7 linked regions of the Homo sapiens genome follow. The protein of the gene in region 5 purifies or fractionates together with the protein of the main gene of each other region. This does not show direct contact. Each region holds a gene or a part of one and is shown on either strand. Other genes may lie near its edges. The genes, in order: GINS2, SLC20A1, C12orf43, HECTD4, CSNK1G2, ZSWIM8 and ACVR1B.

Region 1 (4,224 bases), on a different chromosome or scaffold from region 5:
TCAGCCATTTAAAGTATACAAGTTTTGAGGTGGGTGGATCACGAGGTCAGGAGATTGAGACCAACCTGGCTAACACGGTGAAACCCAGTCTCTACTAAAAATACAAAAACAAAATTAGCCGAGCGTGGTAGCGGGCGCCTGTAGTCCCAGCTACTTGGGAGGCTGACGCGGGAGAATGGTGTGAACCCAGGAGGTGGAGCTTGCAGTGAGCCGAGATCGCACCACTGCACTCCAGCCTGGGCGACAGAGCGAGACTCTGTCTCAAAAAAAAAAAAAAAGTATACAAGTTTTAGTAGCACTTGTGGGCTATTAAAAACAAAGTGTACAAGTCAATGGTGTTTAGTATATTCAGACTTGGGCAACCATTACCTCCATCAATCCCAATTTTCATCATGCCAAAAAGAAACTCCACAATCCCTCCATCACCCAAAGCAAGACCCCCATACTTAAGCAACTACTAATCTACATTGTCTCTATTGATTTGCCTATTCTAGACAGTTGATAGAAATGGAATGATACAGTGTGCGGCCTTTTGTGCCTGGTTTCTTTCATTCAGCAAGATCTTTAAGATGTTTCAGGTTCATCCACGCAGTAGCATGTATCAGAATTCCATTCCTTTTTATAGCTGAATAATATTCAACCTTATTGTGATATATTATTTTCATGCATTCTCTATAACTGCTTCTCAACATGCTAATCTATACTTATTTTTAAAATTTTAAAACAAATGCTTATTTAAGGTCATATATTTATTTTAAAGCAAATTGAAATATCTTACATTAAAATATAGGCTGGGCACAGTGGCTCACGCCTATAATCCCAGCAGATCTGCCAAGGTGGCCAGATCGCTTGACCCCAGGAGTTTGAGACCAGCCTGGGCAGCATGGCAAGACCCCATCTCTACAAAAACGCAAAAATTTGCAGGGTGTGGTGGCGCACGCCAGTGGTCCCAGCTACTTGGGAGGCTGAGGCAGGAGGATCACTTGAACCCAGGAGGTGAAGGCTGCATTGAGCCGAGATTGCACCACTGCTCTCCAGCCTGGGTGATGGAGTCAGACCCGTCTCAAAAAACAAACTACAACTTTCACACACACCAAAACCTAACATGACATTACTAACAGTGGTTAGCAGACTCTGCTGAGAGGTGAATCTGGAAGTATTCCTTTCAGCTGATCAGTAGATAACGGAACAGAGGGAGCACGGACCTAGTCAGGAAGGAGGCCCCATGCCTCCACCCCGTGGGAGAGGGCGTCACCCCAAGCCCAGCCCCACCCACGCATCAACCAGTCTCCACCACATCCTTACCTACATCCATCCACTCTGGAGGGAGCAGGCGACATTTCTGTCTTTGTTTCAGGTTAATCGCCAGCCACAGGGGCACTTCCACGGGTAAACCAGGGTTAAAAGGCCCCAGGTCCCCCTGCCAAAAGTAAAACAATTCCCCGTAAGATTGAAAAAGAACAAAAAAAGCATTACTGTGCGTTACTGCTATCAAATAAGAGGCAAGGCATTGCAGAGGCTGAAGTCCAAATGCAAATAATAAAAACCCAACTGTTACCAGACTCAGAACAAAGCGCCTCCTGAGCGGCTCCGAGACACCTGCGAGCGTGGGGCTCAGTCCTTCTGGCCTTTCCGCGGACAGGATGCAAGTCTCCCCTGAGTGGGTGGGGGGCGCTCCCTCTCCCGCCTGCACCCTCCAACTCCGGAACAGGTTTCACACACCCAATGTTGGGGTCCTGGGGTGCGGGGAGGTGGGTCTGGGCAGGTACAGAGCCTGCCCTCCTTCTCCAGGACTCCCAGCGCCGAGGCGCCTCCCTCATACTGAAAACGCAAAGCCGGGCGGGCGCGGGGGCTCACAATCCAGCTACTCGGGAGGCTGAGGCAGGAGAATCACCTGAACCCGGGAGGCGGAGGCCGCAGTGAGCCGAGATCGCGCCACTGCATTCCCGCCCGGGCGATAGAGCGAAACTCCATCTCAAAGATAAAGACAAAAACAAACAGAGGCAAAGCCGACTTTTGCCCATAATCCCAGCCCTTTGGGAGGCCGACGTGGGAGGATCGCCTGGGGAGCCCAGGAGTTCGAGGCCAGCCGCATCTCTACCAAATAAATAAGCCGGGCGCAGTGGCTCCCGCCTGTCATCCCAGCACTTTGGGAGGCCGAGGCGAGTGGCTCATGAGGTCAGGAGTTCGAGACCAGCCTGGCCAACACGGTGAAACCACATCTCTACCAAAAATACAAAAATGCGCCGGGCGTGGTGGCGGGCACCTGTAACAGCAGCTACTCAGGAGGCTGAGGCAGGAGAATCGCTTGAACCCGGGAGGCGGAGGCTGCAGTGAGCCGAGACGGCACCACTGCACTCCAGCCTGGGCGACAGAGTGACACTCCACCTCAAAAACCAAAAAACAAACCAAAAAAGCCCCCAAACAGATCAAAAAAACCCTGTAAACCCGGGCGTTCGGGGCACTGGCAAAGAGCGCAGTCTCGCTTTCCTCATCCGAGAAGCGGGAACGGCGGTGAGCGAGTCAAGCGCCGAGTGGTGGCCTCCGCAGATGCGGGAGCAGGGCGAGCCCGCGACCCCGGGGCTGAAGGCCACGCGGGAGCCCCGGACGCGCCCAGCCCGGCCTCCCCTCCCCACGGCGGGCCCAGGCCTCACCCCGATGAGGTAGATCTTGTCCAGACTGAAGTTGGGGATAATGGTAACCAGCTCCTTCTCGGCGAGGAATTCGACCTCGGCAGCGTCCATGGCGGCGCGAGCTGCAGGCCAGAGCCTCACGGTCTCCTCGGGCCCCTCAGCGTCCCGGAGGAGACGCCGCGGCCGCCGTTTTCCCGCCACGGCGAGAGCCCGCCCCGGCCGGAAGACGGCCTGCGCCAGCCTATAGGAAGGCGGTAGACAGCCTATAGGCGCTGTCTGCGGGCGGGGGGGCGGAGACCGCGCTCGCGAAGAGCCCGCGGATTGGCAAGGCCGAGGGAGGCTGCGCGCCGGCCCCGCCCCGGCCCGCGGACAGGCCCCGCCCCCACCCCGGCCCCGCCCCGCCCGTGGGCGTGCACCTGGCGCTGTCAGGATCTCCTGCCGCGGGCGCCAGCTTTGGTGTCCCTTCACCTGTCCCCGGCGCCCGCCGCAAACGGCCCTAATCAAGAGCCGGGGGTGGGGTTCCGGGCCGCTTCTACGCCGGCGTTCCGCATGGGGCCAAGAGTAAACGCATTTATTTTATTTTAATTTTTAAACAACTTTTCGTGGATTTGGGATCTTGCTGTGTTGCTCAGGCTGGTCTTGAACTTCCGGTCTCCAGCGATCCTCCCATCTCGACTTCCCAAAGTGCTGGGATTACAGGTGGGAGCCATCGTGCCAGGCCAAGAGTACAAGCATTTATTGGCCCAAACTCAGCACCGGGCCCGGGACTAGGCATCACCCGGGCTGACAGATAGAGGGATGAGGGAAGACCTTGTTTCCATTAATTTCACAATCTTCTGCCCTCTCTGCACACATTGTTTAAAACAGCTGTAAAAATGCAGATTCCTCCATCCCACCCCACAGCTTCCAATTCGGACACTTCAGAGCAGGAGCTCAGAATTTGCACTTCGGCAGGAGCCCCACATGAGACAGGAGCGGCAGGTTTGCACCACCTGAGCAAATACTCACCTGCTCGCTGGACCGGCTGCCCCTGTACAGTGGGCGCAGGTGAAGCCAGAGCGGTGGCTGGAGCTCACCTGTGTCAGAATCCCCTAGCGGGTGCCCATTGTCTGTGTGCACGCTCCTGGGAGTTGGGATTCCGGAGTCGTGGAAAGGACAGAAAGCTGAATTTCATCCAGGGCCAGGTGATTTTGATGGGGTGGTCATGGCCGGAAAAGCTTCCTGGGGGTGAAGCGCTATTCTAGGACTGCAGTCGAATTTGAAACCTTGATAATTAGGCCCGCGAGAAAAATCACAGGAGACATGAGGATTCCAGGGTTTGGAATTCCAGCAGAAAGCACCCCCTGCCCCCGCCCCAGCTAACCGGATGCTCTCCTCTCCAACCTCCCTGAAGCCCCATAGAGGGTCACTGGGAAGGTGAAAAAAAGCCGTAAAGCTCACAGGCCTGCTCACAAAGCTGTGTCTGTTGTGTATCTGCCTTAGAAGTTGTTATTTACAGATCTGGAGTTTTCGCTGAGTTACTTTCATGTGTGAAGACACATACTCTTGGCCAGGCACGCCTGTAATCCCAGCACTTTGGGAGGCCGAGGCA
Region 2 (3,500 bases), on a different chromosome or scaffold from region 5:
AAAAATGTTACGAAAGAGACGCCAGTCAACAGCCTTCTTGGACCGGAGCCAGCCAACAGACACAACAGAGCCCACCTAGAAGAGAAGCAGACCAAGGAAACAGGTTATTGAAGTGCCAGTGGTATTCTGGCAAACAGACACCTGAGACTGTTTGGACAAGGAGCCCCAGACCCCTGGACAAGACAAAGTCCAAGAAAGCTGGTTTACAACAGGTTAAGCTGGGAAAATGAAGGCAATTTGAAAATCCAATCATAATCTATACTAACGGTAGTAAAAGGACACAAGAACTATTTCTTTTCCCCTTCTCAGCTACTGCTAAAATTTAATGAATATATACTGCTTTTATTTATTTATTTTTTGAGACGGAGTCTCGCACTGTCGCCCAGGCTGGAGTACAGTGGCGCAATCTTGGCTCACTGCAACCTCCACCTCCTGGTTTCATGTGATTCTCCTGCCTCAGCCTCCCAAGTGCTGGGATTACAGGCACCCACCACCACGCCTAGCTAATTTTTTGTATTTTTAGTAGAGATGGGGTTTCACTATGTTGGCCAGGCTGGTCTCAAACTCCTGACCTTGTGATCCACCTGCCTTGGCCTCCCAAAGTGCTGGGATTACAGGCATGAGCCACTGCACCTGGCCTATACACTGCTTTTAATAACAAATTGCATTGTAAGTCTTCCTAAGATTATTTACAGAGTGGCTGATATTAAACCTAATAAACAATTGTCTGGAGACACATCCGGGTAGCAAACAGATGACTCAGCAGGATCCATGATGGACCAGCTTAAATGCTCTTAAGGAAACCAGTTTCTTCCTTCTCCTATAATTATTAGATTGTCATCAAACAACCTTAAGATTTGTTTTGTTTCTCAGTATTTCAATCCTGAGAGGCCCTGAAATATGCCTTCTGTAAATAAACTGCTTTGCCAACATTTTGGCAAGCCTCACAGACTTGTTAGAACCAGGCCTTCAGCCACCACAAATGGCAGCAGAAACCCACCTGGCCAGAATTAAAGCACCTGCCAGTTTCTAAGCATACACCTACCCTGCTCTGAATGGCTTCCCCAAAGGCAAAGAACATAATGCTGTCGGCCGGGCGCGGTGGCTCACGCATGTAATCCTAGCACTTTGGGAGGCCGAGCCAGGTGGATCACCTGAGGTTAGGAGTTCATGACCAGCTTGGCCAACATGGTGAAATCCTGTGTCTACTAAAAATACAAAAATTAGCCAGGCATGGTGGCGGGTGCCTATAATCCCAGCTACTTGAGAGGCTGAAGCACAAGAATCACTTGAGCCCAGGAGGCGGAGGTTGCAATGAGCCGAGATTGTGCCACTGAACTCCAGCCCAGGTGACACAGCAAGACTCCAACTCATACATAAATAAATAAAACATAATGGTGCCAAGTAGAAATGACTCTTGAGATTAAAAAAAAAATTATTATAAAGAGACTACAATGAGGGAGGATAAAGTAACAAAGGAAGAGGTTAGTAGCCAGAAACTACAGTAAGCTGTATATAAAACAATGTTTCTATTATTTGGGGAGAATATCTATTTAATTGCTTAAATAAGAATAAACACAAGAAATAACTTATGAACTCTTCAAGACTCCAACTGCACAAAACTTTCTAAATCAAAGTATCAGAGAAGTAAAACTAAAAACCCTACATATTAGAAGAACCATTTGAAAGACACACATTGGCATTACACTTACTTTACAATGTGTTGTACTGATGGGAAGGCCAATATTTGATGCAATCACCACAGTGAGGGCAGATGCCAGTTCAATACTGAAGCCACTACAGACACAAAAGGATTCTTGTCAGGAAGTGAGTTTGACTTTTTTGAGAAGCTAACACTACACCTCAAGTTAACACAGTCCTGCTTTGTTCTACTCAGTCACAAAACCTCCACTGACATCTTTATTTGCTATAACCCCTAAGATCTACTTTATTTAAATCAGGCCACAGATGCCCAGTTTCCTTATTCAAAGGCTTCCAGTTTTACGTTTTTCTGGAATCCCACTATTAAATAAAATTTGCACTTTTATTTTGAAGAGTTTGGTAAACATTGAGTCTTAGCTCCCAAGACAAATAAAAGGCAAGTATACATAACTATCCGCTCTTAGCATACACAGCTTTCTCAGAAAAGTCATTTTCTTCAGAGACCACCAGAGCTAAATGGGTAAAATGTCTGACCAAAATGTTTAAGGGCCAGACAAGTAAAATCTAAAAAGAACAATGACAATAAGAACATCATGAACTTATACAAACTTGGTTACTTTAGAGATTTGTGTTAGCACTCGACAGTGTTATATCTCTGAAAAAAATGAGTACTGACATTTGTAGAACCTGCTCCACCTACTTACCTAGAGGGTGTGATCGGTGTCAGATCCTTCCCCATGGTCTGGATAACTCTTCTTCCCCAAACCCACAGACCAACACAGATACCAACACCACCATAGAGTAGAAGCCATATTGGTGTTGCCACTTTTGAAGAAACATCTCCTGTGTCATAAACCAAATATAAAGCAACCAGAGGCCCAATGGCATTGCTGGAAGAAACAAAGAGGGCAGAAGTGACTTTTCAGGCAGAACTAGATCTTGGCAAGACCCAATCTGCTGAATGATCTACCAGGTTGTCTAAAGTACAGCTTTCAAGCTCATCTGGCAAAAGGGCCTTTCTTTCTAAAGACATAAATGGAACCCCAACATACACAACAGAAAAATGAACACAGCTCTGATGGAGGGAATGCCAGGCAAATGGTGGCCTCTTTCCTCCTATAGGCAGCTTAAAGCAACTCTCAGGTTCCAATAAACAGTTTACAAACCAAACTACAAAATCATTCTATATGAAAAACTTTTAAGTTTTTCATCTTACATCTTACATCCCACAATTCACTACCAAAGAACTGAATCTCATCTTGATGGACAAAAGCCTTCTCTGTGAAGAGTATCTGTTTATATTTATCATCTACAAAAATAAACATTCTTTGTAATTCCTCTGAAGAATAAAACTGTACTGTCTTATTATGTCAATAACTGCTATTACCTCATCCTATTTGTATTATTTGGGGTCCTGTAAATGCTAGGAGTACCACTACCACAAGCACAGGCCTGTGACAAGGATAAATGGTTTAAAAATAGGGTTAGCAACACTAAGATCAATGTCAACTGACCTTACGTCATTGCCACCATGGGCGAATGACCCAAAGCAGGCTGTAAGGATCTGCAGGAACTGGAAGAGGAGAGAGACTTCAGGCTTATCCTGGTCATACCATTCTTCTAGAGAGCCATTACTTCCTTTTCTGTCACCTAGACCCATCTCTGCCTTGACACTCATGTCTATCTCAGATGCTGAGTGAAGGTCAGACACAGCATTGCAGTAACTGGTGTAACTGTCCATTCGAATTCGCTTCTTGGAGTCTGCATTAGGCCATGTCAGCTTCTCCATTTCTTCGCCCTTCTGTTCACCTTCTTTGGCACGGAATGAATCCAGAGGC
Region 3 (3,251 bases), on a different chromosome or scaffold from region 5:
ATTTGTTGCCAACATTTCAAAATCAGGAATTTTCACATAGAAATCCAGATTTCTGGCATCTTTTGGAAAATTGGAAAAATTCATATTCCCATATAACAGTGCACCAGGCCTCACTGCATCCACTCACATCGGCTCCAATGACCCCTGGCGGTGGGGCGGTCACCTGAGTTTGTAATCTATGATGCCATTGTCAGGAGTGGGCACTTTGGAGTCAGGTGGGTGGGCTTTGCAGCCTGCCTTTTTGCAAGCTGCCCCCTTTCTATAAGGTTCCTGGACCCGGCCCTGGCAGCTGTCATGACAGCCACTGAGGCCATTCTGTGTCCTGGCATTCACCCCATGAGGCGTGTCCATGACCACCCCCATTTTACAGATGAGAAAGTGGACACTCAAGGAGGGGAGGGACTTGCCTCATCTCCCACAGCTACCAGATGGCAGGGCCAGGACTCGAACCCAGGTCCCACCTCAAAGCCCATTCTCTTAACCATTGCCATCAGTCAGGGTTCTCCAGGAACACAGAACCAACAGATTTATTTGAAGGACTTGGCCCGTGTCTGCGGGGGGCTGGCAGGCCTGAAATCTGTTGCTGGCAGCTCTGGGGAGTGAATTCTGCAGCCTTGAGGCAGAATTCCTTCTCTGGGAAACCGGTTTTTGCTCTTACGGCCTTCCACTGATGTAGGAGGCCCACCCATATTTTCAGGGTAATCTCCTTCACTCAAAGCCAACTGATTGTGGCATTAACCACATCTACAAAGCACCTGCATTCACAGCAGCGCCTAGATTAGTGTTTGACTCAGCCTAGCCAAGCCAACACGTACAACTACCTACCTCGGCATCTCACCGGGGCTTCTCCAGTGTTCACACTAAGATGTACTCAGGCCACTCCATGGGCGGCCGTGGACCCTGGCTGGGAGGCTCCCTTTGAAGAACCGAGGGTAGAGGTGTGACTTTGGGGTTCCTGTTATCTGCTGTGATCCAGGAGGTGTGGCCCTGCCTCCCCATCCTGAGTACCCCTAGGGACAGGCAGGTGGGGTGGGTGTGGGTGCCTGGTGGGTGGCTAGCAGCCTTGTTTGCCTCTGCAGTGTCCTCCAGCAGCCTGGTGCTGTACCAGAGCTCAGACTCCAGCAATGGCCAGAGCCACCTGCTGCCATCCAACCACAGCGTCATCGAGACCTTCATCTCCACCCAGATGGCCTCTTCCTCCCAGTAACCACGGCACCTGGGCCCTGGGGCCTGTACTGCCTGCTTGGGGGGTGATGAGGGCAGCAGCCAGCCCTGCCTGGAGGACCTGAGCCTGCCGAGCAACCGTGGCCCTTCCTGGACAGCTGTGCCTCGCTCCCCACTCTGCTCTGATGCATCAGAAAGGGAGGGCTCTGAGGCGCCCCAACCCGTGGAGGCTGCTCGGGGTGCACAGGAGGGGGTCGTGGAGAGCTAGGAGCAAAGCCTGTTCATGGCAGATGTAGGAGGGACTGTCGCTGCTTCGTGGGATACAGTCTTCTTACTTGGAACTGAAGGGGGCGGCCTATGACTTGGGCACCCCCAGCCTGGGCCTATGGAGAGCCCTGGGACCGCTACACCACTCTGGCAGCCACACTTCTCAGGACACAGGCCTGTGTAGCTGTGACCTGCTGAGCTCTGAGAGGCCCTGGATCAGCGTGGCCTTGTTCTGTCACCAATGTACCCACCGGGCCACTCCTTCCTGCCCCAACTCCTTCCAGCTAGTGACCCACATGCCATTTGTACTGACCCCATCACCTACTCACACAGGCATTTCCTGGGTGGCTACTCTGTGCCAGAGCCTGGGGCTCTAACGCCTGAGCCCAGGGAGGCCGAAGCTAACAGGGAAGGCAGGCAGGGCTCTCCTGGCTTCCCATCCCCAGCGATTCCCTCTCCCAGGCCCCATGACCTCCAGCTTTCCTGTATTTGTTCCCAAGAGCATCATGCCTCTGAGGCCAGCCTGGCCTCCTGCCTCTACTGGGAAGGCTACTTCGGGGCTGGGAAGTCGTCCTTACTCCTGTGGGAGCCTCGCAACCCGTGCCAAGTCCAGGTCCTGGTGGGGCAGCTCCTCTGTCTCGAGCGCCCTGCAGACCCTGCCCTTGTTTGGGGCAGGAGTAGCTGAGCTCACAAGGCAGCAAGGCCCGAGCAGCTGAGCAGGGCCGGGGAACTGGCCAAGCTGAGGTGCCCAGGAGAAGAAAGAGGTGACCCCAGGGCACAGGAGCTACCTGTGTGGACAGGACTAACACTCAGAAGCCTGGGGGCCTGGCTGGCTGAGGGCAGTTCGCAGCCACCCTGAGGAGTCTGAGGTCCTGAGCACTGCCAGGAGGGACAAAGGAGCCTGTGAACCCAGGACAAGCATGGTCCCACATCCCTGGGCCTGCTGCTGAGAACCTGGCCTTCAGTGTACCGCGTCTACCCTGGGATTCAGGAAAAGGCCTGGGGTGACCCGGCACCCCCTGCAGCTTGTAGCCAGCCGGGGCGAGTGGCACGTTTATTTAACTTTTAGTAAAGTCAAGGAGAAATGCGGTGGAAACTTCTTGCTTGTCCACAAATCATTCAGATGGGGTTTGGGCAGGTAGCGGGAGGCTGGGGCAGGCCAGAGGCCTGCGAAGAGGAGACAGGCTCCAGCACCCACGCTCTCACACCCCACATCTCTGCTTTTCTTGCTCTGCTGAGACTCTAATGACAAAGCCAGATTTCATCTTAACCTCAAGCTTCTACTTTTTAAAAAAATTTTGTTTTGGAGACAGGGTCTCACTGTCACCCAGGCTGGACTGCAGTGGCATTATACAGCTCACTGCAGCCTTGAACTCCTGGACTAAAGGGATCCTCCCACCTCAGCCTCACAAGCAGCCTCACAGGCGCTCACTACCATGCCCAACTAATTTTTGTATTCTTTTTTTTATAGAGACGAGGTTTCACCATGTTGCCTAGGCTGGTCTGGAACTCGGCTCAAGTGATCCACCTGCCTCGGCCTCCCAAAGTGCTGGGATTACAGGTGTGAGCCACCATCCCTGGCCATGAGCTTCTACTTCTTTTCTTTTTCTTTTTCTTTTTTTTTTTTTGAGATAGGGTCTTGCTCCATTGCTTAGGCTAGAGTGCAGTGGCGCAATCTCGGCTCACTGCAACCTGCACCTCCTGGGTTCAAGCGATTCTCCCACCTCAGCCTCCTGAGTAGCTGGGATTACGGGCGTGTGTCAACATGCTCAGCTAATTTTTGTATTTTTAGTAGAGATGGGGTCTCGCCATGTTGGCCA
Region 4 (3,500 bases), on a different chromosome or scaffold from region 5:
TGTATTTTTTTAGTAGAGACGGGGTTTCACCGTGTTAGCGAAGATGGTCTCGATCTCCTGACCTCGTGATCCGCCCACCTGACCTCGTGTGATCCGCCCACCTCTGCCTCCCAAAGTGCTGGGATTACAGGCATGAGCCACTGCACCTGGCCCATGTCTAGCTAATTTTAAAATGTTTTGTAGAGATGGGATCTTGCTATGTTGCCCAGGCTGGTCTTGAACTCCTGGCCTCAAGCAATTCTCCTGCTTTGGCCTCTCAAGTGCTGGAATTACAGGCATGAGCCACCACACTCAGCCCACATCCATCTTATTATTATTATTGTTATTTTTGTTTGGTTTTTTTGAGACAGGGTCTGGCTCTGTCACCCAGGCTGGAGTACAGTGACAGTCTTCGCCTACTACAACCTTTGCCTCCTAGGCTCAAGTAATTTTTCAGCCTCAGCCTCCTGAGTAGCTGGGACTACAAGTGCATGCCACCACGCCCAGCTAATTTTATTGTATTTGTTTGTAGGGAGAGAGTTTTGCCATGTTGTCCAGGCTGGTCTTGAACTCCAGTCCACTCCTTGCCCTCCCATAGTGCTGAGATTACAGGCATGAGACACCATATCTGGCCACCTCCATCTTTTTAATTCTGACATTAGCCCTATCATTATCCCACTCTTTTAGATGATGATAGTATAACATAATAGTTCAAGAATATGGACTCAGGGCTGGAATCAGACAGACCTATTTCAGTCTTAGCTTTGCCACTAACTATCTTACCTTTGTCAAGTTACTTAACTTTTGTCTGTGCCAGTTTCCTCATTTATAAAATAAAGATAATCCTTGGCCAGGCACGGTGGCTGACGCCTGAAATTCCAACACTTGGGAGGCCAAGGAGGGTGGATCACTTGAGGTCAGGAGTTAGCCTGGCCAACATGGTGAAACCCCGTCTCTACTAAAAATACAAAAAATAGCCAGGTGTGGTGGCACGGGAGTTACTCGGGAGGCTGAGGCAGAAGAATCACTTGAACCCAGGAGGCGGAGGTTGCAGTGAGCCGAGATCACGCCACTGCACTCCAGCCTGGGCGACAAAGTAAGACTCCATTTCAAAACAAACAAAACAAAACAAAAATAATAAAAGTAAAGATAATCCAGTACCAACCTCATGTTTTTTGTGAGGATCAAATAAAATAATGGATGTGAAGTACTTAGCACAGAACATACCACTCAATATGCTGGCGCTGTTGTCGTGGGAGTGGTAGAGATAGTGACAATGATGACTAAGAAGATGCACCAGAAGATAACTAGGGGCTGAGCGCAGTGGCTCACACATATAATCCCAGCACTTTGGGAGGCTGAGGTGGGCAGATCACCAGAGGTCAGGAGTTCCAGACCAGCCTGGCCAACATTGTGAAACCCTGTGTCTGCTAAAAATATAAAATTAGCCAGGCATGGTGATGCATGCCTGTAATCCCAACTACTCGGGAGGCTGAGGCAGGAGAACCACTTGAACCCGGGAGGCGAAGGTTGCAGTGAGCTGCGATCGTGCTATTGCGCTCCAGCCTAGGTGACAGAACGAGACTCTGTCTCAAAAAAAAAAAAAAAAAAAAGTAACTAGTGATTTCTGAAGGTATGGAATTTGGCCAGGTGCAGTGGCTCACACCTGTATTCCCAGCACTTTGGGAGACTGAGACAGGAGGATTGCTTGAGGCCAGGAGTTCACAACCAGCCTGAGCAACACAGCATGACTCCATCTCTATAAAACATTAAAAAATTAGTAGCACACCGGTAGTCCCAGCTACTCAGGAGGCTAAGGTGGGAAGACCACTTAAAGCACAGGAGTGTGAGGCTGCAGTGAACTATGATCACACCACTGCTCTCCAGCCAGTGACAGAGTGAGAACCTGTCTCTAGAAAAATATGTTTAAAAAAAGGTATGGAATTTGCCCAAGGTCATACAGCAAGCAAGGAGCAGAGCTAGAATTTCAATCCCAGTTTGACTCTTTAAACCTGACTTTAACTTCAAGGCAATACTGTCTCCCACAGCCCTCAAATACTTCATTCTCATTTTACAGCTCGAGCCAGACAAGCCTGAAAGCCTGTTGGGCCTTTTGCCCAAGCTCACAGAATACTGCACCAAGATTCAGTGACTCCTATTACAGTGCTCATTAATTGCATGGTAATCAACACTACTGGTGAACAAGGGTAGTTTATTCGCTTATTCATTAACTCATCCAAATCTAGAATTCTATAAAAGTACATAAACACTTTCCAAAGGATTTTGCCCAAAGGATATATAGGCTAGCAGTGTCCTCCTAGGAGAATAGACCAACATAAATCTAAATATCATCTCAAAGATTTCACTTGAGTGTATGATAAGTATTTAAAGCCTTGATGATTTCAGCTGATCAACTTCAAACCCAAATGCCCCTTTTCTTATCTGGCAAAACAAAATAATAAACAAAAACCCTTTGCATCTATTAGGTTCCATTTGTTAATTAACATATAATTGGCGTACAGTAAACTGCACATATTTAAAGTGTGTGATTTAATGAGTTTTGACATACATATACAAATGTGAAACCATCACCACAATCAAAATAGGGAAAGAGCCATCGCCCCAAAAGTTTCTTCATGCTCCTTTATACTCCGTCCCTCTCATCCTTTCCTGCCTGCCTGCCTCTATCCCCAGGTAACCACTACAGATTAGTCTGCATTTCTAGAATTTCATAGAAATGGAGTCTTACAGTATATACTCCTGTTTGTCTGGTTTCTTCCACTCTGCATAAATCCATGTTGTGAGTACCAACGGTTCATTCGTTTTTGTTGCTGAGTAATACTCCATTGTATGGATGTACCACATTTGTTTATCCATTCACCTGCTGACGGACATTTGGATTGTTTCCAGCTTTGGGCAATCACAAATAAAGCTGACTTGAACATTCACGTTCAAGTCTTTGTGTGGTGTGGGGCGGGGTGGAGAGGGAGTACTTAAAAGCAAACACAATGAAATATGAGAAGCACTAACCAAAATGCTTAAATTTAAAATGAACTTCAACTGTGGAGTAAGAAATATCTTAGCCACCTTGGGTAAGTCAATCAGCTTCTCTGTCAATACTCTTATATACGATGCCTGCTTGTTCCCAACCGCAGTTTGTAAAGAAAAATGGAATAGGAAGCAGAATGCTTTTGGAATTCTCACAAGTAAGCTATTCCTTCTTTTCCCCCTCTTAAATTCCCTTTATCTTAAAAAGAATAATGTTCTATGAAATGCAATGCAAAATGCAATAACATTTGAGATGTTATTTTTGAGTTATTGCTTTTTTATTTCTCTTAAATGTATATTTATTTCAACATTTTAAAAAAATTTCCTAAGCCGGTCGTGGTGGCTCACGTCTGTAATCCCAAAACTTTGAGAGGTAGAGGCGGCTGGATCACTTGAGGTCAGCAGTTCAAGTCCACCCTGGCCAATATGGCGAAACCGCATCTCTACTAAAAATACAAAAAAAAAAAAAAAAT
Region 5 (3,500 bases):
TGGTGTCAGGCGTGCCGGGTCCGCCTCCCCCATCCCGCGGATCTGCAGATCTGCAAATGCTCCGCCGGCAGCCACACGAGAGAACCTGTTGGTTGGCGGCCTCTGTGCAAGGCCGTCTGAGTGAGGCCTGCAGTCTGGAGGCTCCCTAGGTCGGGAGGCTCCGCGTCTGCTTCTTCCTCATTCTGGAGTTCTCGTGGGGCCCGTGCTGTGGGGCTTCCTGGGAAGTGGGTGGAGCGCCCATTTTACAGATGAGGAAGTCGAGGCCTACCTGGCCTGCTTGGGTAGAGGAGAAGGTGGTGTTTCCCGAGGGCTGACTCCCACACCTGTGCTTCTCTGGTCACCCGCCGTGCCAGTGGGAGCAGTGACAGCGAGGGGTGGTGGCCCTGCGGCCAGGGGACGGGCCTCACCGCCTTCCCCATCCTCTCTGCTGGCTCTGTCCAGAGGGCTGTGCCGCCCTGTGACTGGCACGTGGGTGCAGCCGTCTGCTGGGTGGGTCTGTCCGGGAGCTTGACTGGCCTGGCTGGGTGGGGGGGGGTACCCCTTTGTGCTACCTCAGCGAGGGCTCAAAGTGAGGGTCTGGGACCACCAGAACGGTGTATTCAATGCACTGCGGGCAGCCCTGCAGCGGGCAGGGATTGAGTGAGGGGTGGGGCCTGCCTGGCTCCTGGCAAGCACCCGTCTGGCGGGCGGGGCCCAGTGAGCCTCCTCCCTTTGCCGGGTCCTCCTGTAGTGGGGCAGGAACCTCTAGCATCCCACCCTTGCTGCCCTTTTTCTGCCCCGCTCACCACCCACATCAACTTGTCACCAGCAAGGGCATGGGACAAAGCAGGACATGCCCCGGGTGGCCAGCGTGAGCTAGCTGTGCCCAGGAGCATTGCCCATGCTGTCCCCCAGGCACTGTCCTGAAGCCCTGCTGGGTTCTGAGTCCTCCAGGCTCCGCGGCCCCTTCTCGCCCTGCCCAGAGTCTCTGGCCACCACCGCTGCTTGGGGCCCTGCACCAGCCTGTGCGCCCGCAAGGTTGCCAGGGCCCCTCTGCAGGTGCAGCGTGAGCTGTGTCCTGGGCCCACAGGGGAGCCGCTTCTCAGACCCCCGGGCTGGCCCCAGGCTCCCCCGGCAGCACTCAGGCGGCCCTGGCCCCCGGTGCGGCTGACTGTTCGGGGCACGCGTCTGAGGTGTGGGGATCATCTCCCCCTTGCTCAGAGCCCCCAACGTGTCCCCTGCACAGGGAATCGGGGCAGCCCCCTGCCAGCCCTGCCCAGGGATCCCTCCTGTCACCCTCAGGCGTGCTCCTGGGTGGCCCAGCGGCCTCCCTGCACCGTGAGGCCCGAGACAGTTTCGCGTGACATCATGTTGAAAACAGCCAGCTCTGGCCGGGCGCGGGGGCTCCCACCTGTCATCCCAGCACTTTGGGAGGCCGAGGTGGGCGGATCACCTGAGGTCAGGAGTTCAAGACTAGTCTGGCCAACATGGCAAAACCCCATCTCCACTAAAAATACAAAAATTAGCCGGGCGTGGTGGCGTGCGCCCATAATCCCAGCTACTCGAGAGGCTGAGGCAGGAGAATCACTTGAACCCGGGAGGTGGAGGTTTTAGTGAGCCAGGATCGCGCCACTGCACTCCAGCCTGGGCAACAGAGCGAGACTCCGTCTCAAAAAAAAAAAAAAAAAAAGCTGGTTCTCCCTTGATGCGCATCTGCTGAACTTCTGGGGCACGCTGGGGTAGAGCAGTGGGTCCCTCCCTGGAGAGGCCATGGGGTGAGGACCGAAGCTGTGGGTGCCAAGTGGGGCAGGCAGCCCAGTGGAGTGGGGCAAGAGACTCTGGTCTGGCCGGCCTGACCCGTGGGGTATGACTCTTGTTACGGCAGATTCCATCTAGGAGCGGAGGCCACGCGTATGTTCCCGGGAGAGGTGGGAAGTGCATCCCGTGGCCTATCCCGGGGAGGTCACTCCCATTCCATACCTGCAGGGGGAGCTAGCTGCCTCACGTCTGTGTCTCAGGCCGCGCAGAGGAGGGGGCGCAGGTGAGGGCAGCGGGAAGAAAGACTGCAAGAGGCTCGGGGGTCACGGGCCAGGGCTGGCCCATCACTATTTATTCGTTTATTTATTTATTTATTTATTTTTTATTTATTTATTTTTTTTAAGATGGAGTCTTGCACTGTTGCCCAGGCTGGAGTGCAGTGGCCCGATCTCAGCTCACTGCAAGCTCCGCCTCTTGGGTTCACGCCATTCTCCTGCCTCAGCTTCCCGAGTAGCTGGGACTACAGGCGACCGCCACCACGCCTGGCTAGTTTTTTGTACTTTTAGTAGAGACGGGGTTTCACCGTGTTAGCCAGGATGGTCTCGATCTCCTGACCTCGTGATCTGCCCGCCTCGGCCTCCCAAAGTGCTGGGATTACAGGCGTGAGCCACCGCGCCCGGCTATTTATTTATTTATTTATTATTATTATTATTATTTTCTTTGAGATGGAGTCTCGCTCTGTTGCCCAGGCTAGAGTGCAGTGGCGCAATCTTGGCTCACTGCAAGCTCCGCCTCCCGGGTTCACGCCATTCTCCTGCCTCAGCCTCTCCAGCAGCTGGGACTACAGGTACATGCCATCACGCCTGGCTAATTTTTGTATTTTTAGTACAGACGGGGTTTCACTGTGTTAGCCAGGATGGTCTCCATCTCCTGACCTTGTGATCTGCCCGCCTCGGCCTCTCAAAGTGCTGGGATTACAGGCATGAGCCACTGTGCCCGGCCTATTCATTTATTTATTTAGAGACAGAGTCTCGCTCTGTTGTCCATGTTGGCCAAGCTGGTCTTGAACTCCTGACCTCAGGTGATCCACCTGCTTCAGCCTCCCTCATAGCTGGGATTACAGGCGTGAGCCACCGTGCCCGGCCCTATCGCTATTTAAAAGGCAGAGAAAATCTTAGAGGTTTTTTTATTGTCACCAGCGGTGTTTCGTTGATGCGTAATTGCCTTTGGAGGCTTGAAAAAAGTTGTGCTTAAAGGTAATCCCTCAATTATCTGGAAACTTCCACCCTCCAGAGTGAGGCACCCCAAGTCCTGGTCTGGATTCGTGGACAGAGTCCCTGCCTGTGAGGCCTGATGGCCAGTCCTCTCGCCTTGGCCGTGGTGCTTCAGGCCCTGTTGCAGGTGGGACCCGCCCTCCTTAGGGACCTTGTTTCCCAGGTGATGCTCATGTAATCTGCGGTGACCTCTGCCCCTTCCCATCTGACCTCTGTCCCCAGGAAAGATGGCAGGCGTGCGAGGGCTCATCCTGTCCGCGGCAGTTGTGCCCCTCGGGCTTCTGCTCCAGTGGTCCTGGGGCAGGGCAGCTGGCGCTGATGCCCAGGCTCTGCCTGGGGACAGTTCCCAGGACGGGAGCCTGAGGGCAGCGCACGGGACCAGCGTGAGGACACGGACTGGCCCGTGTCTGCCTCTGACTTGCTGGGTGTGCCTTTGAGTTCCTCTGAGGGTGGGTGCGCCGAGGGGGATCCAGCTGGGCCCTGGCCACG
Region 6 (3,500 bases), on a different chromosome or scaffold from region 5:
CCCTTCTCCCGACGTGTGCCTTCACATAAGAGGGGATGTTCTGCCTCGCTCACTGTTGTCTTCATGCCTGCGAGAAAGAGGACCTTATGGGGATTGAGAGTAGTCATAATTCCCAAGACAGCAAAGGTAAGAGGCCAGGGTTCCCAAGCCATCAGCATATGAAGTAAGGGGTTCCCTTGGTCCAACCCACATCACCTATAGAAGTCTTCGTTGACTATTATATCCAGCCTAAGCTCTGGTGTGCTTTTCAAAACCTTCATAACCAGGTCCAATCTGCTTACCCAGCATGTACTTATCATTTTAGGGAAGCTGGCCTCCTCATTCTCATGAAAACTTGATTGCGTTGTGTATTTACTCATGGTGTTCGCTGGTTTAGGACCTACTGATCTTTTAACCCACATTCCATATTCTACCACTTCCCTTAGGCCTTTCTCTAGATTTTTGTTTTGCTGCCCTTACAATACCCAATACCCATAGCACACAATTTTTTTTTTCTTTGTTTGAGACAAGGTTTCACTCTGTTGCCCAGGCTAGAGGGCAGTGGTGCAATCACAGTTCACTGCAGCCTCAATCTCCAGGCTAAAGCAATTCTCCCACTTCAGCCTCTGGAGTAGCTGGCAGCACAAGGCATGTGCCACCACACCTGGCTAATTTTTTTTTTTTTTTTTTTTTTTTTTTTAAGTAGAGATGAGGTCTTGCTAGGTTGCCCAGGCTGGTCATGAACTCCTGAGCTCAAACAATCCTCCTGCTTCAGCCTCCCAAAGCGCTGCGATTACAAGCATGGGCCACCACGCCCAGCCATATAGCACACATTTTTGCCCTGAATTCCTGTCTTACAGGCACTAGTTGGCTCACACATGTCATCCTGACCTTCCCATTACCATACAGCCCTTCACAACAAGGCACAGGTCTCATGTCCTTCAAGACCTGAACCAGGCTTAGCTCGTTGATATGCTCAAGACTCACCCAAGGCAGCAACTGCTGCTTCAAATCCAAGCTCCTCATCCCCAGGTGTCTCGCTGTTCCAGTTGCGACTTGGGGGCCGGGAACCTGTGGGAGAAACCACTGTATAAAAGTTGGGGTAAGTCAGGCAGACAGAAGTATCATGCATGGGAAAAAATACAGGGGAACCCAAAATCCTCATCATCACAGACCTACCCATGAAGCTGCCTGATGGGTCCTAAAGGTGATTCAGAAACTTGGGGCTCTTGGTCTTTCTTAGAGAAAGCTACCCCTACCCCAGTTCCCCACTTACTGTAGGGTCAGGCATCATACCTGGAGCACAGAGAACGTCAAAGATGAAACTGGCCAGCATGAGAGGCAACACAGGCCGATAGTCACAGAGTGTCCCCTCCCGAAGTTCCTCTGCCCGGCACCGCATGGTACTCATCTCACTTGGACCCAGAGGGATCTTCTTGAGCAGGGCAGCCACCTCAGACTCCTGGTATGCCAGCTTCACCTGAGGGCACAGGAAGGAGCTCAGACCTCTGGTGTGTCAATAGAGATCAAGGTGCAAGGCTCTAAAGAGACTGAAATACAAGGCTGAGATGGAGCCTCTGACCTCCAAGGCCTTGGTAGAAGCTGGAGGCCTCTGTAGCTCCAAGGCAAACATGCCAACTCGGAAGGCCAGGTTGTGGTGCTCTGGACGCTCACTTAGCACTGTCAACAGGAAGGCCGCCTTGCTCAGGGTGTTGGTAGCCACCCAGGTCTGACGGCTCGTGGATACCTTGTTCTTCTTGCCCTAGAAAGGGAAGAAACACAGGAGACAGGCAGATGATTCTGACTTACCTTGGTGGAGGTAGAAGGATGCTCTCACTTGGGGTGGGGCATGGGAGCAGGTTGGGGGTAAGTGGGGGAGGGGAAGGTAGAGGAAGGGGGTCTCTCACCTTGGCAGGGGGCGGCTCTACCTTGAGGTCGGGTGGGTTGGCTAGCAGATCCTGGGCAAGCTCCACAGTGAGACGGGAGGCCTCACTGCTATAGCCATGCGCATGCAGGGCCTCAGCACAGGCAAACAGTACCTGGAAGGAGGACATGGGACCAGACAGGTTAAAGTCCCAACTTCCAGGAGCAGGACATCATGCTCACTCATGCAGCCAACATTCCTTGAACACTTGCTACATGCCAGGCCCTGTGCCGCTCCATAGGAGCTCTGGTTAGAAAGACAGACACATAAACACACATGCCACCGTGATGCCAGCTATTACAGGGAAAGGTCAAGGGGAAGCAGGTGGGATATCTTGGGGCACAGGGACAGTATCAGAGAGACTCCCTAGAGGAAGTGATCTTTAAGATCCCTGAGACCTGAAGGAGAAACACGGGCTAATGGGGAAGAGCATTCCAGGCAGAAAGGTCAATCTGTCCAAAATCCTGGAGGCAAGAGAGAGAGCATGGCAGATACATGAGTGATTCAGCTGACTGGAGTGCAAAGGACAGAGCAGCCAAGTGAGGCTGGCAAAGCAGGCAAAGACCAGATCAAGTGGACCCTCACAGGTCATGCCAACCACTTTCATTTTATCATAAGGGCAACAGGAACCCATTGAAGGGTTTTAAGCAGCAGAGTGACACCATCACATTTCAGGAAAATCTCGTGGAAGCAGAAAAGTGAGTAGACTGAAAGCAGGGAGACCAGTTCGGCGCCTGCAACAGGGTTCTCACAATCCTGCTGATGGTCCTGACACTCCCAACTAGAGCTAGATAGCCCCTCCCAGTTGTGGCTAAGGAGCACCCAGCCCTCCCTCCTTCCATCCCCTCACCTCCATGCGACTCTCCTGTTCCAGTGGCTTCAGCCCAGCAAACAGGTCGTGCTCCTCCCCAGCCCCGCCCTCGGCCTTCTCTTCCTCGCCCCCAGCCCCATCCTGGGCATTCAGATAGTACGCCTGGTAGTCATCATCCTCCTCTCCAACTGCAGGGGCTGCCTCTTTGGTTTTGGGAAGCCCATTGCCACTCTCATCTGTAGAAGGGAGGTCGTCCTGGGTACAGACATCCCCAGGCAGTAGGCCAGGGGGGCCAACAGAGGCTGTGGGAGGCTCAGGCCCTTCCGAGAAGTACACACCACCATCTTCTTCATAAGTATCTGGGGGCTCAGGAAGGAAAGTGGAAGGGCCTCGGGAGCCACCGTGGAGAGGACAGGGTGGAGGGCTCTCAGGGAATCCCCCGAAGGTGCTGGCCTCTGCGCCCAGGGCCAGGCTGCTGTCATCCAGGCTCATCTCGGCCAGGTCTGGCTCCAGGGAGCTGTCTTCGCTGCTCAGCCGTCGCTTGCTTCCGCCACCTGCTGAGCCCTTGCTCCCACTGCCAGCCCCACCCAGTGCCTTGGCTTTGCCCCCACCTGGACCCATCTTATGTAGAGCTTTATCTCCCCCTTCAGCTGAGAGGCGGCGGGGACCCCGCTGTGATGAGGGGACCCCCTCACCCAAGCCCTTTCGCTTGGTCCCAGGCTCCTTGGGCCGCACAGCTGGCTCAGTAGGAAGGGGTCGGGGCCGGTCCCGGGATTCCTCCAGGCC
Region 7 (3,500 bases), on a different chromosome or scaffold from region 5:
CCACATTACAAGTACTTCTGCCAAGAAGTCAAAACATGCTTCAAATAAACAAATCTTTACTCTCTCTTTGTTTTTTTGATATGGAGTTTCGCTCTTGTTGCCCAAGCTGGAGTGCAATGGCACAGTCATGGCTCACTGCAGCCTCCGCCTCCCGGGTTCAAGTGATTCTCCTGCCTCAGCCTCCCGAGTAGCTGGGATTACAGGCGCCTGCCACCATGCCTGGCTAATTTTTTGTATTTGTAATAGAGATGGGGTTTCGCGATGTTGGCCAGGCTGGTCTCCAACTCCTGCCCTCAGGTGATCCGCCCACCTTGGCCTCCCAAAGTGCTGGGATTACAGGCGTGAGCCACCGCACCTGGCCAAATAAACAAATCTTGATGGTTAAAAATAGAGATACACATCAGAGTAGCCTGGTATTGCCAAATCTGTGCTGAAGTATTTAGAATCAAATTTAAAACATGGGAGTTTGCAATGAAGAGATGTGTACACTTCTTCTGCCCCAAGGGACTTTATCAGGGTGATACTCTTCCACATTCAGAGGGCTCCTGAATCAATACTTTGATTTAAAGAGAGCAGTCATCATTTTCTGTGCGTGACCATGTTTGTTTTGCTATTGCAGATACATGGCCCCTGAAGTACTTGATGAAACCATTAATATGAAACACTTTGACTCCTTTAAATGTGCTGATATTTATGCCCTCGGGCTTGTATATTGGGAGATTGCTCGAAGATGCAATTCTGGAGGTACCTTTCTTTTTTGCCTTTGCTCCTACCTCCCATTCCAGGATGCTGGATCACCCAAAGCTGTTTTACTGCCCCCTTTCTTTTTACAACCTGTTGGATGCCTGTTGCCAGAGCCTGAATCATCGTTTAAGGTTGCCATCAAAGGTGTGGAGGTAGCTGTGCTTAGGGTGCGTTTATTCTTCAGGGATCAGTTTGTTGAATAGCGTTGTGTGTTATGGTAACCATTCTGAAGGCTCGTTTGGCTTTATAAACAAACAAACATTGTTTTATTAGTCCGTGGCGGGGAGTGCCCCGGTGCGCATAGCACGGGATTCATGCAGTGGTCTCCTTCACATCAGAAGCAGTATATTCTAACGCGGTGGCTCCCAAGCCACATTCATGGGAAACCCTGCTGTTTCATTGTTAAAATAATAGTGCTAATTTCTAAATTTATAAAAGTGCATAGATTTTTCTTAAAAGTGAGTTTTTTCTCCCATAGTTAAAAATCGTTGGCATTTGCAGCTGCTTATTCATGACAGAATCCAGTAAGAAATAGTATCAGATTTAGCAGAAACACTTTTTATTGTCAACTTAGTATATCAGTATTTTATGATAATTTCCATATATTCTGCCACATGATCAAGTTCCAGGACCTCTAGAGCCCTACTCTCAGCCATTTATCTGTGATATAAGAGATTCCAGGGCAGTGAAAGTGATTGAAAAAAAGAACTGGTGGTGCTCACTTCGCCAGCACATATACTAAAATTGGAACAATACAGAGAAGGTTAGCATGGCCCCTGCACAAGGATGACATGCAAATTCCTGAAGCGTTCCATATTTTTTAAAGACCTAGTATTTGATAGCACCACAGGGTGACTATAGTCAATAATATAATTGTACATTTTAAAATAACTGAAAGAATATAATTAGATTGTTTGTAACACAGTGTAAATGCTTGAAGGGATGGATATCCCATTTTCCCTGATGTGATTATTATGCATTGCATGCCTGTATCAAAACATCTCATGTACCCCATAAGTATATACATCTACTGTGTTCCCACAAAAATTAAAAATTAAAAAAATCTAATCTACAAAAAATATGACAAGTCTTCCAGCAGAACTGTTTTGTATATTAATACCCTTTTCCAGCTTCCATTTATGACATGTTTGGTAAAATCCAAATTATGGAAATAGTGCCCAGGTAGTATTCATGGAATTGTACCTCTTAAATTTTGATCAGTATATGCAGTAAAACAGACTAAGAGGCCAGGCGCAGTGGCTCACGCTTGTAATCCCCAGCACTTTGGGAGGCCAAGGCAGGCGGATCACGAGGTCAAGAGATCGAGACCATCCTGGCCAACATGGTGAAACCCTGTCTCTACTAAAAATACAAAAATTAGCAGGGCATGGTGGTGCACGCCTGTAGTCCCAGCTACTTGGGAGGCTGAGGCAGGAGAACGCTTGAACCCTGGAGGCGGAGTTTGCAGTGAGCCAAGATCGAGCCACTGCATTGCAGCCTTGCGACAGAGCGAGACTCCATCTCAAAGAAAAAACAAACAAACTAAGAAAAATCTGGTCACACAGGTCTTAAACTGTGAATAAGTTTATTTCTTCTTATGACATCCAGAAATTGAGGCTAAATATATAATAATGCTAACATTTATTCACCACTTGCTATGTATAAGCTCATTTAATCTTTACTACTACAAGTAAATAATAAGTAGGTGCTATTATCATCGCCATTTTACAAATGAAGAAAATGAGTCACAGAGAAGTTAGGAAATTTGTCTAAGGTCACATAACTATTTTAGTAAACAAGGGTTCAGACTCGGACAGGCTGAGGCCAGGGCTTAAGCCTGTAACTACCCCTTAGATAATTACCAAGTCCAATTCTCTATTTAAAAATATTTCCCAGGCTGGGCACTGTGTCACACCTGTAATCCCAGCACTTTGAGAGGCCAGGGTGGGCTGATTACCTGAGGCCAGGAGTTTGAGACCAGCTTGGGCTACATGGTGAAACTCTATCTTTACAAAAATAAAAAAATTAGCCAGACATAAAGGCCAGGCATGGTGGCTCACGCCTGTAATCCCAGCACTTTGGGAGGCCAAGGTGGGCGGATCACCTGGGAGTTCGAGACCAGCCTGGCCAATGTGAAGCCCTATCTCTATTAAAAATACAAAAATTAGCCGGGTGTAGTGGCGGGCGCCTGTAATCTCAGCTACTCAGGAGGTTGAGGTAGGAGAGACTCCATCTCTACTTAAAAGAAAAAAAATTGTCTCATTAGCTCAAGACAGCAGGGTTTTTTTGTTTTGTTTTGTTTTTCTTTTTCTGGAAAAGGGCTTGAGAAAAATTAATTGGCTTTTTATTTTTATTTTTTTGAGAGAGGGTTTCTCTTTGTCACCCAGGCTGTATTGCCATGGCACAATCTTAGCTCACTGCAACCTCCGCCTCCTGGGTTCAAGCCAGTCTCCTGCCTCAGCCTCCCGAGTAGCTGGGATTACAGGTGCCCACCACCACTGCGGGCTGATTTTTCTGTTTTTAGTAGTGATGGGGCTTCATTGTGTTGGCCAGGCTGGTCTCGAACTCCTGACCTCAGGTGGTCCACCTGCCTTAGCCTCCCAAAGTGCTAGGATTATAAGCGTGAGCCACTGTGCCTGGCCTAAATTGGCTTTTTAAAACTATCTTTTTATTATGGAAAATCTTTCTAAGTTTGTAGTTCTTAAAGATGAGGACTTAAAAAAATGCAGTGCTATTACCACACTTTAAAAAATGAA

Evidence for each region.
Region 1: the proteins of CSNK1G2 (region 5) and GINS2 purify together in Homo sapiens (affinity purification with mass spectrometry; 2 studies listed by BioGRID and IntAct, with this or other methods). This does not show direct contact.
Region 2: the proteins of CSNK1G2 (region 5) and SLC20A1 purify together in Homo sapiens (affinity purification with mass spectrometry; one large-scale study listed by BioGRID and IntAct). This does not show direct contact.
Region 3: the proteins of CSNK1G2 (region 5) and C12orf43 purify together in Homo sapiens (affinity purification with mass spectrometry; one large-scale study listed by BioGRID and IntAct). This does not show direct contact.
Region 4: the proteins of CSNK1G2 (region 5) and HECTD4 purify together in Homo sapiens (affinity purification with mass spectrometry, with the first as the bait; one large-scale study listed by BioGRID). This does not show direct contact.
Region 6: the proteins of CSNK1G2 (region 5) and ZSWIM8 purify together in Homo sapiens (affinity purification with mass spectrometry; one large-scale study listed by BioGRID and IntAct). This does not show direct contact.
Region 7: the proteins of CSNK1G2 (region 5) and ACVR1B purify together in Homo sapiens (affinity purification with mass spectrometry; one large-scale study listed by BioGRID and IntAct). This does not show direct contact.

What each region holds. Positions count from the first base shown.
Region 1 is NC_000016.10:85,686,155-85,690,378, forward strand, and holds the start of GINS2 (DNA replication complex GINS protein PSF2), read right to left. Parts: upstream 2,801-4,224; 5' UTR 2,745-2,800; coding exon 2,655-2,744; intron 1,421-2,654; coding exon 1,306-1,420; intron 1-1,305. UniProt on the Homo sapiens protein: Required for correct functioning of the GINS complex, a complex that plays an essential role in the initiation of DNA replication, and progression of DNA replication forks.
Region 2 is NC_000002.12:112,659,439-112,662,938, reverse strand, and holds part of SLC20A1 (sodium-dependent phosphate transporter 1), read right to left. Parts: coding exon 3,177-3,500; intron 2,553-3,176; coding exon 2,367-2,552; intron 1,798-2,366; coding exon 1,713-1,797; intron 76-1,712; coding exon 1-75. UniProt on the Homo sapiens protein: Sodium-phosphate symporter which preferentially transports the monovalent form of phosphate with a stoichiometry of two sodium ions per phosphate ion. May play a role in extracellular matrix and cartilage calcification as well as in vascular calcification.
Region 3 is NC_000012.12:120,999,986-121,003,236, forward strand, and holds the end of C12orf43 (protein CUSTOS), read right to left. Parts: 3' UTR 1,208-3,251; coding exon of another isoform or gene 1,080-1,207; 3' UTR 501-1,079; downstream 1-500. Other genes in the region: HNF1A (hepatocyte nuclear factor 1-alpha), read left to right, coding at 1,080-1,207. UniProt on the Homo sapiens protein: Plays a role in the regulation of Wnt signaling pathway during early development.
Region 4 is NC_000012.12:112,372,432-112,375,931, forward strand, and holds part of HECTD4 (probable E3 ubiquitin-protein ligase HECTD4), read right to left. Parts: intron 1-3,500.
Region 5 is NC_000019.10:1,944,172-1,947,671, forward strand, and holds part of CSNK1G2 (casein kinase I), read left to right. Parts: intron 1-3,500. UniProt on the Homo sapiens protein: Serine/threonine-protein kinase. Casein kinases are operationally defined by their preferential utilization of acidic proteins such as caseins as substrates. It can phosphorylate a large number of proteins. Participates in Wnt signaling.
Region 6 is NC_000010.11:73,792,106-73,795,605, reverse strand, and holds part of ZSWIM8 (zinc finger SWIM domain-containing protein 8), read right to left. Parts: coding exon 2,754-3,500; intron 2,019-2,753; coding exon 1,887-2,018; intron 1,742-1,886; coding exon 1,562-1,741; intron 1,460-1,561; coding exon 1,276-1,459; intron 1,066-1,275; coding exon 967-1,065; intron 68-966; coding exon 1-67. UniProt on the Homo sapiens protein: Substrate recognition component of a SCF-like E3 ubiquitin-protein ligase complex that promotes target-directed microRNA degradation (TDMD), a process that mediates degradation of microRNAs (miRNAs).
Region 7 is NC_000012.12:51,986,199-51,989,698, forward strand, and holds part of ACVR1B (activin receptor type-1B isoform a precursor), read left to right. Parts: intron 1-619; coding exon 620-744; intron 745-3,500. UniProt on the Homo sapiens protein: Transmembrane serine/threonine kinase activin type-1 receptor forming an activin receptor complex with activin receptor type-2 (ACVR2A or ACVR2B).